Regions from separate parts of the Homo sapiens genome. Here all the other regions are linked to region 2. Evidence: fine-mapped expression QTL. A gene starts in region 2. Each other region holds a variant in brackets. All regions are shown on one strand. Distances are from middle to middle.

The links. PIP is the estimated chance that this variant, and not a neighbour inherited with it, causes the effect. A credible set is the group of variants that fine-mapping cannot tell apart.
Region 1: its variant is the best candidate, but not a certain one, in a credible set for the expression of CRTC1 in tibial nerve (GTEx, PIP 0.81).
Region 3: its variant is the best candidate, but not a certain one, in a credible set for the expression of CRTC1 in cerebellum (GTEx, PIP 0.85).

The regions. Positions count from the first base shown.
Region 1 is chr19:18,715,316-18,721,852 of GRCh38, forward strand. The region is part of intron 1 of CRTC1 (CREB regulated transcription coactivator 1); the gene reads left to right. Among named protein-coding and RNA genes, the nearest start is that of CRTC1, 35 kb to the left of the region's middle. The variant A/G (reference allele first, on the strand shown) is at 3,645.
Region 2 is chr19:18,680,009-18,686,545 of GRCh38, forward strand. CRTC1 (CREB regulated transcription coactivator 1) reads left to right here and starts at 3,672. Exons shown (of 14, transcript NM_015321.3): 1 at 3,672-3,820. The coding sequence starts at 3,695. RefSeq lists an enhancer at 3,062-3,361 and a silencer at 3,572-3,661.
Region 3 is chr19:18,722,380-18,728,916 of GRCh38, forward strand. The region is part of intron 1 of CRTC1 (CREB regulated transcription coactivator 1); the gene reads left to right. Among named protein-coding and RNA genes, the nearest start is that of CRTC1, 42 kb to the left of the region's middle. The variant G/A (reference allele first, on the strand shown) is at 3,552.

The DNA of each region.
Region 1 (6,537 bases), 35 kb after region 2:
CTCCCAGGTTCAAGCAATTCTCCTGCCTTAGTCTCCCAAGTAGCTGGGATTACAGGTGCACGACACCACGCCTGGCTAATACCCCTTCTCTTCTCTTCTAAAGGCCCTTGCCATTGGATTAGGGCCCACCCTACTCCAACATGACTTTAACTCAATTACAGCTGCAAATACCTTATTTCCAAGTAAGTTCCCATTCCAGGTGCCAGGGGTCAGGACTTGGACATACTTTTCTGGGAGTACGTCCCACAACAGAAAGTAAGTACTGTGGTGCAGGCCCCATGCCCAGCAGGGAGCTGCAGCCTCCCCTCAGCCACCTGTGGCCCCGGGGACGGGCCTGTCCTCCCCTCTTCCCCTGCTTCTCAGTGTGTGGACATCATGATGCTTTTGCTTTCGTCATTTGTGTGATTGCATCTTGGAACCAAGTGCTGTTTGCACGTGCAGGTGGGCTCCCAGGCAGGGGGTCTCTCTGAGTTGGCCTGTTTGGAGGTTTGTCCCAGCCAAGGGGCCCACCTGGCTGAACCCACCCTGCTCAGGGCTGCATCCTGTTTCCCTGTTGACTTTGCTGCAGCCCACGCTCCTTCCTGCCACTGCTTGTGGTTGGCTGCTGTTTGGAGCTGTCCCCGGCATTCCTGCACCCGAAGCCTGGGACAGGTGTACGCTTATGTGCTGGCAGCGGTTGGCGGGGGGGGTGTCGCCAAAGAGCGGGGATGCTGAGAATGGTCCCCTTGCTGGGCTGCAGGTGGGGAGGGATGCCTCCGGGATTCCCAGAGTCACTGGTGGCATGTGCCCCCCGCTGCCCTGCCCAGTGCCCCGCCCTGGGGACCCTGTAGTGAGTGCAGCAGCCACAGCCCACCCTTGTTGGGGGCTGTGGTCTTAGGGTGGGGACATCAGCCTGAGGGTCATTATTGGAGGTGGGGCCAGAATGTGGCTCCCGAATGACTCTTTTTTTTTTTTTGAGACGCAATCTTGCTCTGTCACCCAGGCTGGAGTGCAGTGGCACGATCTCAGCTCACTGCAGTCTCCACCTCCCAGGTTCAAGCAGTTCTCTGCCTCAGCCTCCCAAGTAGCTGGGATTACAGGCGTCTGCCACCACACCCAGCTAATTTTTGTATTTTTAGTAGAGATGGGGTTTCACCATGTTGGCCAGGCTGGTCTCAAACTCCTGACCTCATGATCCACCCACCTTGGCCTCCCAAAGTGCTGGGATTACAGGTGTGAGCAACTGTGCCTGGCCGGCTCCTGCATGACTCTTAGCCCAGGTGCAGCCCAGCAAGCATTAGCGTGTGGAGAGCCCAGCGGGCATTAGTGTGTGGAGAGGGCATGGCTAGTATAGGGGCTAGCGAGTAGAGCATGCTGTGTCGTCTTTCCTGTAGAGCTGGAGTGACCTGCTCAGGTGGGAAGTTTGGAGAGACTCCAGCTGAGTGGTTTGGGCGCTGCAGGGTTAACTTGAGACCCCAGTAGGAGGCTTCTGTATTTGTCCAGGCAAGAGAAGATGTGGCTTGGGCCAGAATGAGGACAGAAGAGGCGAGAGGGCAGAAGAGGTGCTGGGACATGGGGGAGCCAGGTGGGGCATGGGGGGTTCCTAAGGAAGGGACAGGTTTGGGCAGTTGTGAATGTGCTCGTGTGTGTGCAAGTGAGTGGGAGCTGGCGTGCAGGCAGGACAGGAGTGCAGGCAGGACAGGAGTGTGAGCATGTGTGTGTGCGTGTGAGCATATGTGCATGCACGTGCATGAATGTGTTTATGTGACTATGTGCATTGCTGTGAGTGTGCACACATGTGGCTGGGTGCATGTGTGTGAACACGTGTGATGTCTGTACAGCCTCCCTGGTGGGTGACTGGCGCTGGGCTGGAGACATGAGTTTGGGGAGCTTTGAGTGAGGGGTGATGGTGGCACTCCCAGGGTGGGGCTGAGAGGGGGCTGCTGGGCTTGGGAGTGGAGGGCCCAGGGGAAGTCTTTCCCCTAGCACCCTCTCCCAGGGTCTTCAGGCTGTGTGGGAGCCAGGACTGGGTCTGTCTCCTTGTGGCCTCTGTCCTTGGTGCAGTAATGACCACTGGGTAGTGGCCCTTGGGGTCAAGGGCATCCCTGGAGCCCTTGCCATAGATGCTGAGCTGGAGCAGGGCTGCCACCCCATACTGTTCAGGGGCCAGTCCCTCCCCTCTGGAGCTGATCACCCCAAACACTGTCCCCTCAGAAGGGTCGTAGTGCTCACTCACAGGAGCCTGTGTTTCTGCCTGTGTGTGGGGCACTGGGGCCCAGAGAGGCAGACACAGATGCGTGCAGCCACCAGCTTGGATGCAGGACCCCTGGGCTCAAACACTGCCTTCCAGTCTCAGCCTACAGTGAGTATGGGCGGGGCTGGAGGATGCAGCTCAGAGAGGAGGGTGCAGGGTTCCGGGGTGGGCCAAATGCCGGGTGGGAGCAGAGCAGGGCCGCAGGGACATGGGAGGGCCTCTCGCAGGACGGTTTCTCATGCCAGCCCTGGTCAAGGCAGCAGTGGTTTCCAGACACGGGGGTGCGTGTGTGAGGCAGGAACAGTACAAGCAGAGGGCCCCTGGGGAGAAGGCCTTTGACAGCAGGAAGAGGACCTGGCAGTAGGGACAGGAGTGAGGGAGAAGAAAAAGACAGCAGGGCCTGGGCAGCCCCGTCACGGGGCTGGCTTTGAATCTTACTTATCTATTGTTGAGGTGAACACCACATAACATAAGATTCACCATCTGAAAGTGAACAGTTCCATGGCGTTTGGCGCATTCACAGTATTGTGCAGGCATCACAGCTATCTAGTTCCAGAACATTCTCATCATCCAAAGGAGACCTTGTCCCCATTAGCAGTCCCTCCCCTCCTCTCCTCCCCAGCCCCTGGCAGTTACTAATCTGCTTCCTGTCTCTGTGGATTTGCCTGTTCTGAGCATTTCAGATCGATGGAATCTCACACCCTGTGGCCTTCTGTACCTGGCTTCTCTCACTCAGCATCACATGTTCAGTTTCATCCACATTGTAGCATGGGTCAGTGCTTCCTTCCTTTTTTGTTGTTCCTCTTGAGACAGGGTCTCACTCTGTCACCCAGGCTGGAGTGCAGTGGTACGATCACAGCTCACTGCAGCCTCCACCTCTTGGGCTCTGTCCAACCTCCCACCTCTGCCTCTCGAATAGCTGAAATTATTGGTGTGCACCACCATGCATGCCTGGCTAATTTTTTTTTTTTTTTTTTAGAAACAGGGTTTCACCATATTGGCCAGGCTGCTCTCAAACTCCTGGCCTCAAGGGATCTTCCCTCCTCCGCCTCCCAAAGTGCTGGGATTACAAGTGTGAGCCACCGTGCCCAGCCTTCATTCCTTTTCATGGCTGAATCTTATTCCACTGTATGGACAGACCAGTCTTATTCATTCATCCCTTGGCACACACGTGGGTTTTCCCACCTTTTGGCTGTTGTCCATTGTGCTGGTACACACACTCATGTATGATTGTCTTCATTTCGTGGGGGCATCCGTCCAGGAGTGGGATTGCTTGGTCATAACAGCAGCTCAGCATGTCACTTGTTGAGGAACCGCCATACAGATTGGGGGTTTATTTTAAATAGGATGGAAGCCTACTGGTGTGTTTAAAACGGGAGCATAACACGATTTGAACTGAATGAATAAAGAG[A/G]AGAAAATGAAGGAGTCTCGGCAGCCACTTGCAGAGGGAGCAGGGAGGCCTGGGAGGAGGTCACGTGGGTGTCTGGGTGCGAGATGACACGGGCTAGTACCAGGGAGGGGGCTGACGATGGGCCCTGGAAGTCGAGCTGCTGGGAAGTGATCATGGGAGTGATGAGGCAGGCAGAGGAAAGGGACACCTCCAGCCTCTGTCCCTGCTTCTTCTACCCTGGCGGGCGCAGCCTCCAACTAGTGACCCCTCCTCTGGGCTTGGTCCTTCCCTGCATCGTGTGTGTCTGCTGGGCACTCCAAATGTGGTGCCTGGCCCCGCTAGCCCAGAATGCGGCCTGAAGATGGTGAGACAGGCAAGGGCTAACCCCACCGGGTCCCCAGGGCCTGCAGCAGGTGCCACCTGGGGCCTGGCTAGGAGTTCAGGGGCCTGGGTGAAGCCTTTGGGACAGGGCTGTGAGGGCACTCAAGGGGTACCAGGTGGGCCCCGGCAGGCCCAGGATCTGGCCTTCCAAATCACAAAATGACTTTTGGTGTTATGTAACTCCATAGTCAAGCTATGTCTAAAAAATGGAGCATAAAAGCTATTTTGGGCCCATGGTAATGAGGGCATCTCGCCTTTGTCTTAGCCGTCCTGGGGGGAGGCAGCGTCGAAAGAGCTGCTCAGAGAGGCGGGTTCAGCCCAGACCCCAAGCAAGCCCTGTGTCAGCAGGCAGATGCCGTTTTCAAAAATCATTTGTTCCGCCTCGACCGGAGGTGGCTCCTGGCAGATCGCCCCGCGGTGCTCAGAATCCCAGAGGCCTGCGGGCGGCTGACCCGGGGCGAGCAGGGCTGGGCCTCCTCTGCCGTGTCTGGGATCTGACTTCCCTGAGGTTAGGTCCGGCACCTGTCAGAAACCAGGCCTGACATTTTCAAGATGGGCACAGGCCCGCTCCGGGAAGGCCCCAGGCCCGTCCATGTGGGCAGCGTCGGCGTCGGGCTTCTTGCCTGGGACCCAGGGGCCGCTCTTGGGGAGGGAGACCCTGTTTCAAGTGGCCAGCATCCCCGCCAGTGGTTTGCATTATTCAATTGGTGATAAGATTTAAAATTAAACTGCAAAGGATCTGTTCCCCCAGCTACAAATAGACGTGTGCTTGCACATTCCAGAACACAAGTGTGCACCAAGAGATGTGTTTTGAGTCAAGGTGGAGAAAAAGTGAGTTTTTTTGTTTTGTTTTGTTTTGTTTTTGAGATGGAGTCTCACTGTCTCCCAGGCTGAAGTGTAGTGACGCGATCTCGTGTCACTGCAACCTCTGCTTCCCTGGTTCAAGCAATTCTCCTGCCTCAGCCTCCCGAGTAGCTGGGATTACAGATGTGAGCCACCACACCTGACTAACTTTTGTATTTTCTTTCTTTCTTTCTTTTTCTTTTTTTTGAGACAGTCTCGCTCTGTCACCCAGGCTGGAGTGCAGTGGCATGATCTCGGCTCACTGCAAGCTCCGCCTTCCGGGTTCACGCCATTCTCCTGCCTCAGCCTCCCGAGTAACTGGGACTACAGTCGCCTGCCACCACGCCCGGCTAATTTTTAGTGTTTTTTTTTTTTTTTTTTTTTTAGCAGAGATGGGGTTTCACCATGTTAGTCAGGATGGTCTTGATCTCCTGACCTTGTGATCCGCCCGCCTCGGCCTCCCAGAGTGCTGGGATAACAGGCGTGAGCCACCACGCCCGGCCTAACTTTGGTACTTTCAGTAGAGACGGGGTTTCATCATGTTGGCCAGGCTGATCTCGAACTCCTGACCTCAAGAGATCCACCCACCTTGACCTCCCAAAGTACTGGGATTGCAGGTGTGAGCTGCTGCACCCGGCTGAGTTTTGGAATTCCCTCTCTTTCTCTCTGCTCATGTACACTATGTGCACGCATGCATGGGGCCCTCTCTGCCCGAGTACACTGCCTGCACACATGCGTGGGGCCTTAGTCCTTCCTTTCCTGTTGGTGGCTGTAACAAATGACCACAAACTGGGTATCTTAAAACAATAGAAATGTATTCAGTGCAGGTGTCGGCAGGGCTGGTGCCTGCAGGAGGCTCTAGGGGAGGATCCTTCCTGCCTCCTCCAGCTTCAGTGGCTCTAGGCGCTCTTTGCATCACTCCAGTCTCTGCCTTCATTGTCATGTGGACACCTCCTCTCACTGTGTCTCTTCTCATCTTCTGAGGATGCTAGTCATTGGATTTAAGGCATACCCTACTCCAGTTCAACCTCTGTTTTTTTTTTTTTTTTGAGACGGAGTCTCGCTCTGTCGTCCAGGCTGGAGGGCAGTGGCGCGATCTCGGCTCACTGCAAGCTCCGCCTCCTGGGTTCACGCCATTCTCCTGCCTCAGCCTCCCGAGTAGCTGGGACTTCAGGCGCCCGCCACCATGCCCGGCTAATTTTTTGTATTTTCGGTAGAGACGGGGTTTCACAGTGTTAGCCAGGATGGTCTCGATTTCCTGACCTTGTGATCCACCCACCTTGGCCTCCCAAAGTGCTGGGATTACAGGCATGAGCCACCACACCCGGCCTTTTTTTTTTTTTTTTTTTTTAAACAAGGTCTTGCTCTGTCGCCCAGGCTGGAGTGCAGAGGCACAATCATAGCTCACTTCAACCTCTGCCTCCTGGGGTCAAGCGATCCTCCCACCTCAGCCTCCTGAGTAGCTGGAACTACAGGCGTGATCCACCATGCCCAGCTAATTTTTGTATTTTTAGTAGAGACGGGGTCTTGCTATGTTGCCCAGGCTGGTTTCAAACTCCTGAGCTCAAGCAATCCACCTGCCTCAGTCTCCCAAAGTGTTGGGATTATAGGCGTGAGCCATGCACCTGGCCTCGACCTGCAAAGACTCTCTCCAAATACAGTCACATTCATAGATGGCGGGGTTAGGACA
Region 2 (6,537 bases):
GGGGCGGATCACTTGAGCCCAGGAGTTTGAGACCAGCCTGAGCAACAGGATGAATCCTGTCTCTACAAAAACCACAAAACATTAGCCAGGCATGATGATGCACACCTGTAGTCCCAGCTACCTGGAAGGCTGAGGTGGGGGGATCACCTGAGCCTAAGGGTTGGGGCTTCAGTGAGCATGATCATGCCACTGCACTCCAGCCTGGGCAACAAAGTGAGACCCTGTCTGAAAAAACAAACAAACAAACAAACAAGAAAACAAATAGACAAGCACAAAAGGGAATAAATTTTTGGCCTACATAACTTAAAAGGCAGGTGAGTCTAGCTTCAGGAATGGCTGGATCCAGAAGCTCAGGCTGGAGTACAGTAATGTGATCTCGGCTCACTGCAACCTCTGCCTCCTGGATTCAAGCTGTTCTCCTGCCTCAGCCTCCCAAGTAGCTGGGATTAGAGGCATGTGCCACCATGCCCAGCTAATTTTGTATTTTTAGTAGAGATGGAGTTTCCCTATGTTGGTCAGGCTGGTCTCAAGCTCCTGACCTCAAGTGATCCACCCACCTTGGCCTCCCAAAGTGCTGGGATTACAGTTGTGAGCCACCGTGCCAGGCCTGGTTCTGTTTTCCTCTGTGTGGGTCCACTCTTTTGGCCCAGCTGAACTAATCTTTTGTTTTTTTTTGAGACAAAGTCTCCCTCTGTTGCCCAGGCTAGAGTGAAGTGGCGCTATCTTGGCTCACTGCAACCTCCACCTCCTGGGTTCAAGTGATTTTCCTGCCTCAGCCTCCCCAGCAGCTGGAATTACAGGCGTGTGCCACCGCGTCTGGCTAATTTTTTTTGTATTTTTAGTCGAGATGGGGTTTCACCATGTTGGCCAGTCTGGTCTCAAACTCCTGACCTCAGGTGTTCTGCCCGCCTCTGCCTCCAAAAGTGTAGGGATTACAGTCATGACCCAGCGCCCAGCCTGTTTTTTGTTTGTTTGTTTGTTTGTTTGTTTGAGACAGGGTCTTGCTCTGTCACCCAGGCTGGAGTGCAGTGCATTATCATAGCTCACTGCAGCCTCCATCTCCCAGGCTCAAGCAATCCTCCTGTCTCAGCCTCCTGAGTAGCTGGGATTATAAGCAGGCATCACCACGCGCAGGTAATTTTTTTATTTTTAGTGGAGATTAAATCTCGCTATGTTGCCCAGGCTGGTCTCAAGCTCCTGGGCTCAAATGATCCTCCTGCCTCGGCCTCCCAAGTTCTGGGATTACAGGCATGAGCCACAACACCCAGCCTGGCCTGAACCAATCTTGATGGCCAGCACAATGGGCTATGCTGATTGGCCAAGACTTCCACCTTAGGGAGGGGTGTTTGTGTGGTGGGAGAGTGGTGAGACCAGCCATTCACATCTCACAGACTGAAAGTCAGAACCAGTGTTCCCCAAATAAGGGTTGTTGACACTAAAAAGTTGAGGGAGTGGGTGGGGTTGAGAGAAGGAATATGCTTGTTAGGCAAAAAGTATAGGAGCTTACCAAAGTGCGCAAAATCATATCAAGAAGGAAGATGGCCGGGTGCGGTGGCTCATGTCTGTAATCCCAGCACTTTGGGAGGCTGAGGCGGGCGGATCACCTGAGGTCAGAAGTTCAAGACCAGCCTGGCCAACACGGTGAAACCCTGTCTCTACTAAAAATACAAAAAGTAGCCGGGTGTGGTGGTGGGTTCCTGTAATTCCAGCTACTTGGGAGGCTGAGGCAGGAGAATCACTTAAACCCCAGAGGCAGAGGTTGCAGTGAGCTGAGTCTGTGCCACTGCACTCCAGCCTGGGAAACAGAGACTCCGTCTCAAAAAAAAAAAAAAAAAAAAAATCCCATAAAAATTAGCTGAGCATCATGGTGCATGCCTGTAATCCCAGCTACTTGGGAGGCTGAGGTAGGAGAATCGCTTGAACCTGAGAGGCAGAGATTGCAGTGAGCCAAGGTTGCGCCACTGCACTCTAGCCTGGGCGACAGAGTGAGACTCTGTCTCAAAACAAAGATAAAGTAGGGCAGTGGCAATATCCAAGGCATTCTAAATGAAAATCGATATATATATATATATATTTAACATGAGCATTTTATTACCTGTTGTAAAGCATGAATCAAAGCATGTTTGGAAGATGTCAGCATCCCCTCCAGCCATCCTCAGTCCAATAAAATGTGTGCTTGTTGTGCCATTAGAGCCATCATCAATTCCCCCAGCTGACCTTCCTAGCTTCCACCCAGCCCATACTCTGAAATCCCTGCAGCCTCCTGAATATAAACTTTCAATATTGGTGGTTGGGGGTCCCTCTCTTGAGGGAGGGAGGGTTAGAGTCCCTCCTGCTTCCCTGGCTTACCACTCTGCCATCGGGGGAGTCTCTGCTCCTTCCTTCACTGCTGAGTCTTGATGGGATTTCTGGACCCTTCTGTTAGCACCTTGTTGCAAAATAGAGATCCTTGAACAAGACTGGACTGGAGAAGTATGCAGAGGGAAGGCTGAAGCTCTGTAACTCCAGTTCTTTGGGCTCAGGTATCCAGAGAATAGCAATATGCCCATTGCAAGGGAATGGGAAAAAGTAGTCGTCGGCTGGACATGGTGGCTCACGCCTGTAATCCCAGCACTTAGGGAGGGCGAGGCGGGTGGATCACCTGCTGTCAGGAGTTCAAGACCAGCCTGGCCAACATGGTCTTTAGTCTCTACTGAAAATAAAAAAATTAGCTGGGCGTGGTGGCGCCTGCCTGTAATCCTAGCTACTGGAGAGGCTGAGGCAGGAGAATGGCTTGAACCTGGGAGGAGGAGGTTGCAGTGAGCCGAGATCGCACCACTGCATTCCAGTCTGGGCGACAAGGGCAAAACTCGGTCTCAAGGGAAAAAAAAAAAAAAAAAAGAAAGTCGTTAAGGGCAACAGCTAGGTTTATGGACTGAGAGAGCCGATTGCAGGGTTCAGGTCTTAGCTAAGATAACTTTCCGCCTCCCTGTCTGTGGTGGCTGCAGGAGCCTCCCTCCCTAATGTTCTGTGGCTGGCCACTGGTCTTATTTACCGCATCACATTTACCTCCATCTGAAAAGTTCTTGGTTATTTGTGTGCTATGTCTGCCCCCTCTCTGACTGTACACTCCATAAGGGCAGGGATCACCTCTGCTTGTTCACGCCTGTACTCCAGTTTGCCTGGCACATAGTAGGTGCTCAGTAAATATTCCTTGAATGAATGAATGCATGAGTGACCAACGCCCTAGTCTGTTTTCAGAGCTCTTAGTCCAAACCCAGGTTCAACTTGGGGTGCCACCAATCCTTGCGGGGGGGGGTGCCTGGCCCCACCCTTGTGAATTGGGAGGATCTGGGTCAGGCCGTCTCCCTCTTGGGGGCTCCAGTGCCCCAGCCGATCCGCGGTCCTTGTCCAACAGCCCAGAGGCCGCTGTCCAGCGGGCCAGGAGGCGGATCACTGCGTCGGCGTTGAAATTTCCACTCGCGCTCCACCGCCCTTCCCGCGGGCCCCGAGCGCGCGCCTGGGCGCGCGCATGCGCCTTCGCCCCCGCGCCGCGCGCCGCTCCTGTGCGCCTGCGCCGCGCTCACGACCGCCGGCGCGCCTGCGCACTGCTCGCCGCCCGTGGGCCCAGCCGGCGCTTGCGCGGTGGCACGGGCGAGTGGGGGGGCGAGGAGGTGGAGGAGGAGGAGGAGGAGGAGGAGGTGGCGGCGAGAAGATGGCGACTTCGAACAATCCGCGGAAATTCAGCGAGAAGATCGCGCTGCACAATCAGAAGCAGGCGGAGGAGACGGCGGCCTTCGAGGAGGTCATGAAGGACCTGAGCCTGACGCGGGCCGCGCGGGTAAGGGGGCTGCCCGCGCCGACCCTTCAGGGCCGGCGGAGGGAGGGAGGGGGCGCGTGTCCGGCGCGTGCACGGGGCGGGGTGGGGGGGGGCGCGGCGGGGGCGGGGCGCGCGCGGCGGGGGCGGGGCTTGGCACGGCCCGAGGGGGACAGGTGTCCCCACGCCCCGGGCGTCGTGGGCGGGACAGGTGACCCCACAAAATCCATACCTGATGGGGTACAGGTGCCCTGCATCACTGCTCCCCGGAGGAGACAGGGGCCTCTATATCATTACTACTAGGAGGGAACAGGTGCTAGTACCTCGTCGTTACCTGACAGGGGACAGGTGTCCCTACATCATTGTTACCCGAGGGGGACAGGTGCCCCACATTATTACTACCTGGAAGGGACAGGTGCCCCCGCATCATTGCTACCTGGGGGGGCAGGATGACACAGGTGTATGAGCTGGGTGCTGCTTGCAAGCACCATTGGTAGCTGGGGGTGAGGGTGCAAGTGCCCCCGCATCCTTGCTACCTGGGAGGGACAGATGCCCTCCCATTCTTGCTACCTGAGGGGGACCGGTGTCTCTACGTCATGGTTACCTGTGCCTTTACTCCCTGGGTGTTGGGGGAGGAACGGATGTCCCCACTTGCAGAGCTGAGGTGGGACAGGGATCTCTCCCTCTTGGACAGCTGAGGGAATGGTCAGATCCTGTCCCCCAGGGGGTCCAGAGGGGGGCCAAGAAGGCAGATTGTGCTCAGTCCTGGAACTTGGAGTGGAGACAGCTGCCCCTTCTCCATGTAGCCCATATGGTGGGGGCCAGGTGATGTTCCTCCCAGTGGAACAGGGGATGCTGACCACAGCCCCTGCCCTCTCAGGACCAGGGTGGAGGGCCAGGTCTGCCTCAGGTGGCTGGGCGCATTTGGTGTGCAGGGGCAGGCCAGGTTCTGCCAGGCTCCTGTCTGGCAGAGCAGATACCCTGCAAATCTCACCTGGGAAGTTGCTGTGGGCCAGGAGCAGGGGCTTGGGGCTGGTGTCTGAGCACGGCAAGGCACCCGAGTTCCTCAGGCCTCAGTTTCTTGTCAGGCATTCTAGCAAGACCTTCCTCTTGGGGCAGGGTGGTGAGCACACTCTGCAAAGGTGATGCTGAATCTCCACTTTGTTCTTGCAGTGTGGTGAGACCTCTCTCCTGCATCCTGGGGCCTTGGGGAGGGTTTGGGTGGGCTTTGCAGATGCTCGTATCCCTGGTTTCCAGATTCAGCCACTGATGTGACTGGCTCAGGTAGACTTAACCTCAGTCTCTGATTCCTTAGGTAGCACTTTCAGTCTGTGTTACTTTGTAACTAGTTGTTTGTTTCTCTGAGAGATTGTGACCTTATAGACTAGGATTTGTGTCTTCATTTCTGTGTTGGTAATGATTGGGAGCTCACTGTCACCCAGGTACTGCTTTAGGCATGCTCGGTGAGTGTGCCACATCTGTCCTCCCAGCTCCAAGCAGCTACATTCTTGCTCAGGATGTAGAGAAAGAGATGGCTGGTGAATGAATGAATGAAAAAAAAATAAGAAAATGGCCAGGTGTGGTGGCTCATGCCTGTAATCCCAGCACTTTGGAAGGCTGAGGCAGTGGATCACCTGAGGTTAGGAGTTCGAGACCAGCCTGGCCAACGTGGTGAAACCCTGTCTGTACTAAAAATATAAAAATTAGCCGGACGTGGTGGTAGCTACCTGTAATCCCAGCTACTGGGGAGGTTGAGGTGGGAGAATCACTTGAACCTGGGAGGTGGAGGTTGCAGTGAGCCGAGATCATGTTACTGTACTCCAGCCTGGGTGACAAGAGTGAAACTCCATTTCAAAAAAAGAAAATAAGAAGAAAGTGTGCAACTTGAGCATCCTTCCACGTGAGTGTCCCCCACATATCAGGGCTTCTGAGGCAGGAGTGGCCACTTCTTTTTGTCTCCAGCACATGGTGTGTGCTGGCATGCAGTTGTTGTCAAATGTTTGCAGTGTGACCGGAAGAAAGGGGTCACAGTAGGTTCATGGGTGTCATTCTGATTAGAAGTCCAGTTTCTGCGTGGGATTGGAAATAGATTATTGTTGTTGAAAACATCTCTTTAAAATAATAGCTTTATTGAGATATGATTCACACATCATACAATTTACTTGTTTAAAGTGTACAGTTTGGTGGTTTTTAGTATATTCACAGAGTTGTGCAACCACCCCTATTTTGTAATTCCAGAACATTTTTTATCCACCCAGAAAGAAACCCCGTCCCCATTAACAGTCACTCCCCATTCCCCCTCCCCTAGCCCCTGGCAAGCACTAAGCTGTCTTCTGTCTCTGTGGGTTTTCCTATTCTGGGCATTTTATATAAATGGAATCACACAACACGTGGCCTTTTGTGACTGGCATCTTTCACTCAGCGTCATGTTTTCAAGGTTCATCTCTGTAGTATCATGGATCAGTGCTTCGTTCCTTTTTAGGGTCAAGTAATATTCCGTTGTATGGATATATTGTATTTGTTTATCCATTCATCAGTCAATGAATTTAGAAAAATTCTGAGGCCAAGTGCAGTGGCTCACACTTGTAATCCCAGCACTTTGGGAGGCCAAGGTGAGTGGATGACCTGAGGTCAGGAGTTCGAGACCAGCCTGGCCAACATGGTGAAACCCGTCTCCACTAAAAATACAAAAATTAGTCGGGTGTGGTGGCACATGCCTGTAATCCCAGCTACTCGGGAGG
Region 3 (6,537 bases), 42 kb after region 2:
TGACTCTGGCCTTATGTGGAAAAAAGGTCTTTGGGGGTGTGATGAAGTGAAAGACCTTGAGATGAGATCGTCTTGGATTTAGGATTGGCCCCGAATCCCATGACTGGTGTCCTTATTTAAAGAGGAGAAGACACAGGCACACAGCGAGAAGGCCACGTGATGAAGGAGGCAGAGACCAGAGTGATGCGGCCACAAGCCAAGGAGGCCAAGGACTGCTGACGGCCACCAGTTTTTGAATGGACATGATGTTCACATAACATGAAATTAAGCATTTTAGAGCATGCCGTGGTGGCGTGTAGCACACTCCCAGTGCTGTGCAACCTTCCCTTCTGTCTGCGCCCAGAACATTTCCATCTCCCCAGAGGGAGACCTCACCCCGCAGGTAGTCACTCCCCATTTCCACTCCCAGCCCCAGGCAACCACTAATCTGTCTCTGTGGCTTTGCCTATTCTGGATATTTCATATCAATGAAAATCTGACACCATGTGGCCTTTTATGTCTGGCTTCTGTCACTCAGCATCGTGTTTTCGAGGTTTGTCCATGCTGTAGCATGGATCAGTGCTACAGTCTTTTTTTTTTGAGACAGGGTCTTGCTCTCTTGCCCAGGCTGGAGTGCAGAGGTGCAATCTCGGCTCACTACATCCTCTGCCTCCTGGGTTCAAGCGATTCTTCTGCCTCAGCCTCCCAAGTACCTGGGATTACAGGCATGGGGCACCACTCCTGGCTAATTTTTGTATTTTTGGTAGAGATGGGGTTTCACCATGTTGGCCAGGCTGGTCTCAAACTCCTGACCTCAAGTGATCCACCTGCCACAGCCTCCCAAAGTGCTGGGATTACAGGCCTGAGCCACTGTAATTGCCCGGCCTACAATCATATTTTGTTGTACGGATGGACCACATTTTGTTTATCCATTTATTTGGTGGGTTTTGTCTTTCGGATGTTGTTAACCGTCCACCTACCGTTTGTAAGTTTGTTGACATCTTATCTCCAATCTCCCCATGGGGAGAGACGGAGACCTGTCTCTTCCCATCTGCCTTAGCATCCTTGCTTCTGAAGACAGCTCTCAGGAAGTAGCAGGGCGTGAGGAAGGGATGAAGGGTGGGTGTCTGTGTCACCACAGCCCAGAGGTGCGGAGCCACGTGGTGTCTCCATGCTGTGGCTTAAAGTGTTGGAAGTTTGTGGCCAAGGCCAGTTCACCGGGGACCCCAGGTCCAGTATGGGTTTCCTAACGGTGGGCTTGCGTCACATTAGATAAAAGACCTGAGAGAGAACTCTGGAGGGCAAGGGGGCATCTGGTTGGTATTTCTGCCTGATTGCCATTTGTCTGGGGCCTGGAGAGGGAGCCTTAGCTATGTGTTTCGATGTGGTCAGATGGCCTGTGGGCAACAGGGCAGTTGCCCTGCAGGGACACTGGTCTCAGATGGAGTGAGACAGCCCCTGCGTCGACCCACCTTGCTGCCTGTGCCAGCTCCACAGCAGCCTCGTCAGTGTGGGGCACATTGCACACGCCACCGTCATCTCAGTTGTCCCCGTGCGCTTGGAGCCTCCGGGAGGGAGGATGCACGTTGGCGTGTTAATGGCGATGGCATTCCACCGTCACCCCAGGCAGAAGCAGACACTGTATGCTGCACTTATGAGACATGTGAAACCTCCCTGCACAGAACAGAGCATCCCACATATGTGGTCATGGGAGTTGAGAGAGCGACACCGTGAGCCCAGGCTTGTTCCCTGGGCTCCAGGCGGGAACCGGCGGGGCGGACAGGCTCCTCGGCAGCATCGACACGGCTCCCTCGTCCCCTCTGCAGATGGTGAGGCCCCAGGAGGGAGCAGTGACAGCTGATCAGTCTGTGGGGTGGGGTGTGTGGGTGCGTGGGGTGTTGTTCTCTGCACTCGCTAGGAGTCAATTTCATTTTCATCTTAGAGGTGATGGGTTGTTGCTGTGTGTGGGGGGATTCCATGATGAGCTGGCTCTAGGATCAAGGGACCTGGGGTGTTCAGGTTCTCAGCCCTGCCCTGGAAGGGGAGACAGCAGCACCTATTGGGACTGGGGGGCCATGTGTGAGTTTCTGGTGGCTGCTGTAATATATTAAAGTACTACACCTGGGCTGCTTAGAACAAGAATGTCTTCTCTCATGGTTCTAGAGCCTGGAAGTCTAAAATCCAGGTGTCGGCAGGGCCGAGCTTCCTCTGGAGGCTCTGGGGAGGAATCTTTCCTGCCTCTTCCAGCTTTCAGTGGCTCCAGCCGTTCCTTGGCTTGTGGCTGCATCGCCCCAATCCCGGCCGTCCCCCTCTGCATCTGTGTCTCATCTTCTGTCTCTTAAAAGGGCAGCAGTCACCCGATGTAGGGTCCTCCCGGCTAATCTAGGATGATTTCTTCATCCCAAGATCCTTCCCTTAATTATGTCTGAAAAGACTGTTTTTTCAAATAAGGTCATACTCTCAGGTTCCAGGGATGAGGAGGTGGATATAACCTTTTGGGGACACCGTGAATTCACTCCCCAGTAGCTGAGCTGACCTGCATCGAGCGCTTGGGATCTGCCTCTCACCCTCTTGGTTGCCTTGGCAGTTCCCTAAGGCCTCTGACCCTGTCACCCCCTGCCCAGCTTCCCTCAGCACACTGGCCCCACCCAGGAGCGCTCCTGTTGGTCCGTCCCTTGGACCCGCCTGGAGCTGGGGGGTGTCCCCTTTGTCCTGAGTACACACCCAGGAGACCCCTGTATGCTTCACCTTGGGGAGCTCAGTATCTTTTCTTCATAGCACTCTAGGCCAGCGTCCCTGTGCGAGACCCCCTTGCTCCCTAGTGCCCCTGCCTGGCCCCTCATGGCAATGCTGAGGGGGAGGCCTCCTGTGACCTCTGACCTCTGCAGGCCTCTGCACCTCCAGCCCCTTCTCTCCCCCAGCTCGGGCCTGAGGCCAGCACCCCTTAGGTGGCTTGATCCATCTCAGTTGTCCCTCCCTGTGGCCTCCAGGGAGCCCCTGTCCAGCTCCCAGAATCCTTGCTCTCTGTCATCGCTTGGTTTCTGGGTTCCTGCCTGTCTCTATCCTGGAGAGGAGAAGGAGGAGGACCCAGAACCTAGGAGGCCTCGGCCACCCTCCTGGAGCGGAGGTTGGGGCAGCCTGGCCAGCCGTCCCCACACACGGGCCCCTGGGTTCAGCGTTGGAGAAGGCATCAGTGCCAGACCTGTGGCTATGCGTGCTCACAGGGGCACCAGGCTGCCGGCTGGACCTGGCTTGGCCACTTGCATCCCTGGGGAGGCCTGGCCGTCCTTGGCGCCAGCCCCTCCTCCCTCTTCCTGAGCCTCCCACCTCTCTGGCCTGTGTTAGGGGCTTCTTTCTCCTCTTCTGAGTCTAATTCTGTCTTTCTCGCGTGGCTCAGGTATTCCGCCACCTTCCCCCAACACAGCCTGCATGGTCTCCCTCTCCTGGCTTACAGGGTCCGCCTCGGCCCTCCCGTGTTCTGGAGAATTCCTCTCTCCCCGTGTGTCGCGCTTCCGGGGCTGCCGGTCACCCTGGCTGCTCCTGCTGCCCAGATCCCCTGGGGACATCCCAGG[G/A]ACGGGGGCCACCCAGCCTCAGCCCAGGTCTGCCTGTGCCCATGCAGATCTGCAGTAAAGATGTTCTAGAAAGTGCTTCCTCCCGACTCATGTACCGCGCCCTCGATCTTCTCTGGAGTTGAGGCCGGGCCCTGGAACAGGCTCCAGCTCCTTGTTCTCCCAGCTGGTGATGCAGGAACATCTTTGCGCATAAATCTGCGTTCTGGATGATTTCCCTCAGGAGAGCTTCCCAGAAGTGGGATTACCAGGTTAGAGGGCAGGAACGTTGCTCAGGCACTCGGCGGACGCTGCCAAATGGCTCAGCCGGCGCTCCCAGCCACCTGCCTCTCAGAGCCCCATGCATTTCCAGCACCGCTGACGTGTGCCGGCCTCGCTTCACCCCTCGGTCCCCGGGGGACAGCAGAGGAGGCCCAGGCCCGGGAGGGGAGCTGGCTGCCCCAGAGGAGCCCTCAGGCGGCCAGCTATAGGGATGAGGTGAGAGCCATGGGCATCTGCTTCCTTGGGATGGTTCTTAGAGTGGGCTGGAGGTGACCTGGGGTTTGGTGAGTGTATGGGGTTGAACAGTGTCCCCTCAAAAGTTCATGTTCATCCAGAACCTGTGAGTGAGCTCATTTGGAAATAGGGATTTTACAGATGGACTTAAGTCATGATGAGGTCATTATGGAATAGGGTGGGCCCTAAATCCAGTGACTGGTGTCCTTATAAAGAAGACAAAGGCTGGGCGTGGTGGCCCACTCCTGTAATCCCTGTACTTTGGGAGACCAAGGCGGGCGGATCATGAGGTCAGGAGTTTGAGACCAGCCTGGCCAACATGGTGAAACCCTGTCTTTACTAAAAATACAAAAATTAGCCAGGTGTGATGGTGGGTGCCTGTAATCCCAGCTACTTGGGAGGCCGAGGCAGGAGAATTGCTTGAACCCAGGAGGTGGAGGTTGCAGCGAGCCGAGATCGTGCCACTGCATTCCAGCCTAGGTAACAGAGAAAGACTCCGTCTTGGGGAAAAAAAAAAAAAAAAAAAAAAAGAAGGCAAAACAGGCCAGGCACGGTGGCCTAGGCCTTTAATCCTAGCACTTTGGAAGGCCGAGGTGGGAGGATCACTTGAGGCCAGGAGTCCAGGTCTAGCCTGGGCAACATAGCCAGACCCCATCTCAGCAAAAAATTAGAAAATAATTGGCCAGGCTTGGTGGTGTGCTCCTGTAGTCCCAACTACTCAGGAGGCTGCAGCAGGAGAATCACTTGAGCCCAGGAGTTCAAGGCTGCCATGAGCTATGATTGTGCTGCTGCACTCCAGCCTGGGTGACAGAGTGAGACCCTGTCTCAAACAAACAAGGCAAAACAGAGGCACAGGGACAGAAAGGGAAAAGGACAAGGTCAGGCACGGTGGTTCACGCGTGTAATCCGAGCACTTTGGTAGGCCGAGGCAGGCAGGTCACGAGGTCAGGAGATCGAGACCATCCTGGCTAACACAGTGAAACCCTATCTCTACTAAAAATACAAAAAATTAGTTGGGTATGGTGGCACGCATCAGTAGTCCCAGCTATGTGGGAGGCTGAGGCAGGAGAATCGCTTAAACCTGGGAGGTGGAGGTTGCAGTGAGCCGAGATCACGCCACTGCACTCCAGCCTGGGTGACAGAGCAAGACTCTGTCTCAAAAAAAAAAAAAAAAAGAAGAAGAAAGGGAAAAGGACACAAGCAGACAGAAGCAAAGAATGAGGCGATCCGTCTACAAGCCAAGAAGTGCTAAGGATGGTCAGCAGCCGCAACAGCTGGGAGAGAGGCCACCTTGCTTTTATTTTATTTTTATTTTTTGAGATGGAGTCTCACTATGTTGCCCAGGCTGAAGTGCAGTGGCACAATCTTGGCTCACTGCCACCTCTGCCTCCCAGGTTCAGGAAGTTCTCCTGCCTCAGCCTCCTGAGTAGCTGGGATTACAGGCGCCCATCACCATGCCCAGATAATTTTCTTTTGTATTTTTAGTAGAGATGGGGTTTCACCATGTTGGCCAGGCTGATCTCGAACTCATGACCTCAGGTGATCCACCCACCTCAGCCTCCCAAAGCGCTGGGATTACAGGCGTGAGCCACCGTGCCCGGCCTCCACCTTACTTTCAGAGCCTCCAGAGCTGTGCGGGAAACATCTCTGTTGTGTCAGCCACCTGGTTTGTGCTTATTTGTTACAGCAGCCTCAGGAGACTGATATCATGCCCAAGAGTTGGGGATGGACCAAGGGGGACTCTGGGGTCAGGACAAGTGACCCCTCCCCTGGTGTCCTGGCCCTCCCGGTGAGGTTGCACAGAGGTTGGGAGAATGTCCCGTCCCGGCCCATCTCTGCCTCTCCACCCCCTTATGTTACTAGGTGAAGAATTGTACATTAGCCTCATTTGAAACTTTATTTCCAGGCCTCTTCAGCTTCAATCGCTGCCCAGGATGCATTGTGGGTAAGCAAAACCAGGACAATGGGCTTGGGCTTAAAAGTATCAGAGATCCCGATTTCATTCATTCCTGACACCAAGTCACTTGAAAAAGCAGTCGTAACATCACAGAGCAGCTCCGGGGAAGTTCTCCGTGCCTTATCCTCTTTTTTTAATTTTTTTGGAGATGGAGTTTCCCTCTTGTGGCCCAGGCTGGGGTGCAATAGTGCGATCTTGGCTCAGTAACCTCTGCCTCCTGGTTTCAAGTGACTCTCCCGCCTCAGCCTCCTGAGTAGCTGGGATTACAGGCATGTGCCACGACACCTAACTAATTTTGTATTTTTAGTAGAGACGGAGTTTCATCATGTTGGCCAGGCTGGTCTAGAACTCCTGACCTCAAGTGATCTGCCCACCTTGACTTCCCAAAGACCTCCCAAAGTTCTGGGATTACAGGTGTGAGCCACCTCACCTGGCCTTTTTTTTTTTTTTTGAGACAGAGTCTTGCTCTGTCGCCCAGGCTGGAGTGCAGTAGCACGATCTCAGCTCACTGCATCCTCTACCTCCCGAGTTCAAGTG